Linked DNA regions of Homo sapiens: region 2 is linked to region 1. Evidence: fine-mapped expression QTL. A gene starts in region 1. The other region holds a variant in brackets. All regions are shown on one strand. Distances are from middle to middle. Region 1 holds the start of LINC01711 (long intergenic non-protein coding RNA 1711). Region 2 overlaps APCDD1L-DT (APCDD1L divergent transcript).

What was found.
Region 2: its variant is fine-mapped to the expression of LINC01711 in cartilage (Steinberg 2020, PIP 0.95).

What each region holds. Positions count from the first base shown.
Region 1 is chr20:58,633,476-58,636,384 of GRCh38, reverse strand. It overlaps LINC01711 (long intergenic non-protein coding RNA 1711), which reads right to left and starts at 1,613. Exons shown (of 1, transcript NR_125359.1): 1 at 647-1,613. RefSeq lists enhancers at 1,390-1,459, 1,480-1,609.
Region 2 is chr20:58,545,874-58,548,782 of GRCh38, reverse strand. APCDD1L-DT (APCDD1L divergent transcript) reads right to left here. Exons shown (of 7, transcript NR_034147.1): 6 at 855-971. Among named protein-coding and RNA genes, the nearest start is that of APCDD1L, 32 kb to the right of the region's middle. RefSeq lists an enhancer at 2,221-2,722. The variant T/C (reference allele first, on the strand shown) is at 1,298.

The DNA.
Region 1 (2,909 bases):
CACTTGCGATGAAAGGATTCCAAAGCCCTTCTCCTGAAATTTCTACAGAACATCTCTCTGTAACACACGCACAGAGGGCAGCCAGGGAGATTTACCAGTGAGAACCCTGCTTCCTTCCCTCCCTCCCTTCCTTCCTTCCTCCCCCCCTTCCTTCCTTCCTTCCTTCTTCCCTCCCTCTCTCTGTGCTCCCTCCCTCCCTCCCTTCCTTCCTCCCTCCCTCCCTCTCCTCCTCCCTCCCTTCCCCCTCCCTCCCTTTCTCTCTCTCTTTTTCTTCCTTCCTTCCTTCTTCCCTCCCTCTCTCTGTGCTCCCTCTCTCCCTCCCTCCTTCCTTCCTTCATTTCTTTTTCCCTCCCTCCCTCCTTCCTTCCTCCCTCCCCTCCCTCTCTGCTTCCCTTCCTTCCCTCCCTCCTTTCCTTCCTTCCCTTCCTTCCTTCCCCCCTCCCTCCCTCCCTCTCTCTCTCTCTTCCTTCCTTCTTTCCCTTCCTGCCTCCTTTACTTCTTCCTTTTCCTCCTTCTTTCCTTCCTTTTCTCCCTCTCTTCTTCCCCTCCCTCCATCCTTTCTTTCTTCCCCTTTGATCTTTTTTGTCTCTCAGCAACAATGGACCTCCAGTCGGCCCTGCTTTTTTCCCAGGAATGTTTATGGCACTCTTTCCCACTTGTTTTTATTTCCAAACGTGTAACAGGCCACCCATCAAAGGATGGAATAGGGAAGAAAGTGAGAAGAGAGAGGTCGAGGGAGCAGTCATCGGGTAGCTGCTCCTGGCCTTTGAGTAAGCCGTTTGCCCACTCGATTTGTCAGTTTGTTTGGCCCTCGATGGGGAGGCATCCATCCTTGACCCTCGGAGAGTCCTGAGAGACAGGAGGAGAGGGGTTCTCCATGGCAGTGAGGGGTTCCCTAGCAGGGACCCTAGAGAGAAACGGCTCCAGACCAGGCTTTCCCGGCTCGGTGCTGCTGACAGTCGGGCTGGTCTGCTGTGGGGCCGTCCTGTGCACTGTAGGATGTCTAGTGACACCCCAACCTTAAACTGTGACAAACAAAATTGAACCCAGACTTGGCCAGGTGTTCCCTGGACACAAAATCACCACTGGCTGAGAACCACAGGTCTCCGTGTCCAGAGGCCCTGCAGGGTGCCCCATGGCCAGTGGCTGTGTGGACTTGGTGGCCCATAAGAGGCTCTCGGTGACGCGGGGCTGCAGCACATCACACGACATGGAGCAGATCCGCCAGCGAGGCCCCGACCCAGGAGAGACTCTGCCCCACAGCAGCAGGTGTGAGGCAGCCCCCCACTCCTGGGCCAGGAGCGTCATCGCCCAGAAGGCCCGTGTGGGTGTCCTGGAGTGGGTGTGGCCTCCTCTGATTACTCAGAAAGGCAGCAGAGGTGCAGAGAAGCCTCTGGGGCCTGCTGCTCTGTGTCCTGTGGCAGCATCAGCCCCTGCGGCGGAGGGAGAGATGCCGGGACAGGCAGTAGTGTGAGTGTTTCCAGCCATCAGGTTCTGTAGGGGAGCACGCAGTCCCAGGGGAGGCCCACTTGGGTCCCAGCGGACCGTTAAGAAAGCTCTCCTCTATGGCTGCCCGAACTGTGGTGGGTATGGCCTGACCTTGACTTCCTGTACACTTTCATTTTTCATTTTTTTTTCCTGGTTCTTGGCTCTGGAAAAAGTGGGAAAACATATACAGTGACCATACTGTTGACGTCTCAGTCAGAGAAGAGGAACGATTTCACAGTAGCTGGGGGAAAGCGCTGGATACCACGTGCACTCATAAATCACGCCCACGTTTATGCATCTGCGGATGTGGGGCCGCAGATATTTTTCCTTTCTGAAGAAGAGAATTTAAGCTCTAGAAACTCTGACAAGGCCCCAGTAAATGGGGGCTTTTCTCCTGCCTGCTAAGGGCAGCTTTCAGAAGAGACGTTTGTCAAATGGAACCCGAGTCACCTTTTCCTGCTCTGCTGGATGGGCAGGAGCCGGGCACACCAGGGCAGGAGTCTCCCCTCTGAAGACCTGACCCCTGGGGAAGGCAAGCAAGATTTTCTTGCAAAAAGTTCATGGAATTAGAGACAAGCAAGGTGTCTTCCTGGGGACGCTCGTGGTACCGTAGCAGCAAGGGCCGTGGCAGGCACAGCATAGGGACTTGACAGGCATCGAACGAGTGACTTCGTGTTCCCAAATTGGCAGGATGGTTGACTTCTGTGTGCGGAACATTTCCCATCGCCCATCTGGCAGCCACGTGCTTCTGCCCCGTCACTGTCACTCCCTCTCTGAGTCGAGCTCGCAGTCACTAGGCTGCGAAATGACTGCTGAATACACTATCGATCAAACAGCACATGTTTTGAACATCTATCATGTATATGCCACTGGGTTAAGACCTAGAAAGTATATGGGGCTTTGGGGAGGGGAAGGAGGTTCTTTTAGGAAGGAGGGCAAATGCATGGCACACCTAACCCCACCCTCCCCTCCCATGCTCCTAGCAGACACTGCTAAACCATCACCACATGTGGCGCTTCAGAATGCTGGTTGACAGAGAGCTCTGGGCTGCTCCTCCTTGGGAAGGGCTTTCTGTGATATGGCTCTGGGAGGTAAGGGGCCACCCACTTGACTAGCCAGATGTGCCACAGGGATCCTGGTGATCAATGGTGTAAAAGACATCACAGAGCAATCACCCACATGTCACCCTATTCTGCTATTCTGAGTATTAGAGACCTTTAGGAGGTCATTACAGCAGTGGCGGTGAGAGAATTAGAGGCCTTTGGGAAGACACCCACCCCTCATAATACAAAGAATCTTAAGAGGCAAAGTCACAGATGATGACGGCCAGTTGAGACCATGACAGTAGGCCCAGGCTTTCTGTGGTATGGCGGCTCACCTCCACAAAGGCAACCCTGAAAGACTTCCTGGAGGTGGTGATG
Region 2 (2,909 bases), 88 kb after region 1:
AAAATTAAAAGACACAGCAATTGGGCTGAAATAAAACTCTCACCTCTGCCAACAACATCAAAGTAGAGATTAAAGGCTGATTTTCAGATTTAAAGGCACTGTGCTGATGGCTTTGGGTGGGACCCTGTTTCTGCAGAATTACTGGTAATAGCAATTCTAGAAACAGGTTACAATAACAGCACTTACCAGAGATACACTATGTACTAAGGTCTCTGGATGATAAAGTGGATGGAAATAGCTCATTTCCATTCCCAAATTCACTAACAGAGAGAGCAGTTAGCCAGGGCAGACCATGGGTAATGATGCTCGGTTGTCTGTGAATTAATTTCTGGACAGTACTGCCAGGAGCTAATGCATTTTTCAGTGAAGAGGAGTTTCAAGAAATCTTAATGCTAGTGTGGATTGGTTAATCATTATATTTACATCATCTTGGTGGGGTGAGGGGCCAGCTGGGGTTAATGGACATTTTGGAAGATGTGAGAACGCAGCCTTGGCAGGACAGAGATAGGAAGCCATCCATTCCACCCCGGGGCTGAGAAACTCTGCCTGTCCTCTGGACTGCTGAATTGCTGTGCGGTCATTTCGGAATTAAAGATGGATCTACTTTCTGATTAGCAGAGTTCAGCTTCTTTTGTGAAACTTCTCAAACAGTTTTATTCCCTGGTTACCTTCACATTTATTCTCGAATCTCTATTTCGTGGAGAGGTTGGTGTCAGGGCAGAATTGATCCAGCAGCTTACTGTTAACGTGATTTATCAATAGCAGTGTGAGATCGTATACAAATGTGGCTTAGCATTTTGATGTCTTGGCCATGCTTGATGATAAGGTATGCATTACTATAAAAATAAACTTACTGTGGCTCCTGAATGCCTTTGTTTTCCTTTTGCCTGCACAGCATTCCCGGGAAATGATTAATAAGATGTTTCATTTAAGTACCAAGCAATCCAGAAACCGAGCAGGAACACAGGCACCTGGATGCAGGAAAGCTTGAAATTAACAGGCAGCCATAGAAAGTATAAGATTAATTTCATTTCCTTTTCTTATCTTATGCTCTCTTTTATGTCTTTCCCTATGTAAAGGGGGAGATTAATCCAGGAATGATCTTTTTGTTGGCAATTTTATATTATGTTTGACTACTTAATAGAAATCTGAGCTACAGCGAGGCAGGATGCAGAAAGCGTATCCCGAAGGAGGAGAGGGAGAAGTCATTTTGAGCACAGGAGGCAGATTTCACAGCCAGTGTCAAAGCTGGGAGCAGGAAGAGTAAAGCAAACACCACGAGGCATTCATTCATTCA[T/C]TCATCTATTCATTCATTCCACAGATATTTTCCCATAACGGCCACAGAGCCAGGCTGGGGAGCCTCCGTCATCCAGCCTGCTCCTTTGGGCTGCACCTGATCAAGTTTTTAGGGTGATTTGGAACCAAAATGAAATTCAGTACAATTCAGAACATATTTATTGAGCAGCAGCCATATGTTCAGCATCATCCCGGCTGCGTGGGGAATATCAAAAGGGGGGAGACATGGTGGCTGTCACCAAGGATCTCGCATCTAATTGGGGAGATAAGATACACACACAATACAAGGCAATTATGGTAAGAGCGTACATTTAAATACCACTCTCCTGTTTACCCACATTTCATATCAGCCTCTCTACATTGTTGGAGCCTCTCAACAACTTGGGGAGGGAGGGGGGCAGATATGATAAGTCTCATTTTGTAACTGAGGGATCCGAGGCTCAGCGGGGTCGGGAGGCTTGCCTCAAATCACCCAGCCATAAACAACAGCCCCGGACGTCAGCCAGGGTCGCAGGCTCCCAGCCTGTGGTGTGTTTCAACTAATCAGTTACACTGATTAAATGCCCGGTGGGGGTGGGTGGGGGGCAGCTGCCGGGGCTGGAGAGCTGGCCCTAGCCAGGCCTCCAGCGGCTCCTTTCTGGGGAAGTACAGGTCATGTCAGCCTTGCTTTGAATCCTGCCCCAGTTTTCCACCAAGGAGCCCGATGGCAGCAATGAAGGAGAGCCCCCTTCTCTTATCACCCTACTCCTGTAAGAATCCTATTCCACCTAGAGGGAAAAGAATAGGCAGTGAGTCCACTCAGGTCATCTTGAAGGCAACCCAGGGAATACGTGGCTGACTCAAGAACCCTGGACGTCACAGATTGGTGCCGATCACATGCAGACCACCATTTTACCATCAGGGCAAGCATCAATTTTAGGGTACCATGTTAACAAGGGCACAGATGATGCCAGAACCCAGCTGTCCCCAAAATCCTGGCACAGGGCAGAGCAAGCTGGGGCACACCGTGGGCACTACAGTTGAGAACCTGAAGGAATGAGCCAGGCCCGCCCTGGCTCTCCAAAGGGTGGCCTTCTCGGGCGCTCAGCCTGATTTTGCTCAATTTCTCCTCCTGCCTCTTGTGCTAAGTTAGAAGGACAGATGACATCATTCCTCCTCAGGCCCATTAACCACATGGATCGATGGCAAGAAATAAAATTTGGATTCTTCAAAAATCTCCACAGCAGATGGCCCCAGGAGACCAATTGCAACGAGATTCCTAATTAAATATAATTAAATAAGCATTAAGAGAGAGACTGATGCTCCCCTCTCCACATTACACCACTCTGTGCCAAAGAGTACAAAATTGAGAACGCCATTGTCCGCAAAAAAGCCACAAAGATCATTCAACTCCAGCCTCTGATGACCGAGCTGGGAAAACTGAGACCGGAGGGGCTACAAATTCAGCCAAGGTCTGCAGGATGTGGGGCTGACGACAAAAAGCTGACTGAGAAACTGACTCATGCACAAGTGCCCATTCTGGGGTCATGTTGTTAGCATCTAAAAGGCCCGGACACTTGCATGCTGGGCGGCCTTGGGCATGATCCTTTAGTCTCTGGGCCTCTTTTTCTTTC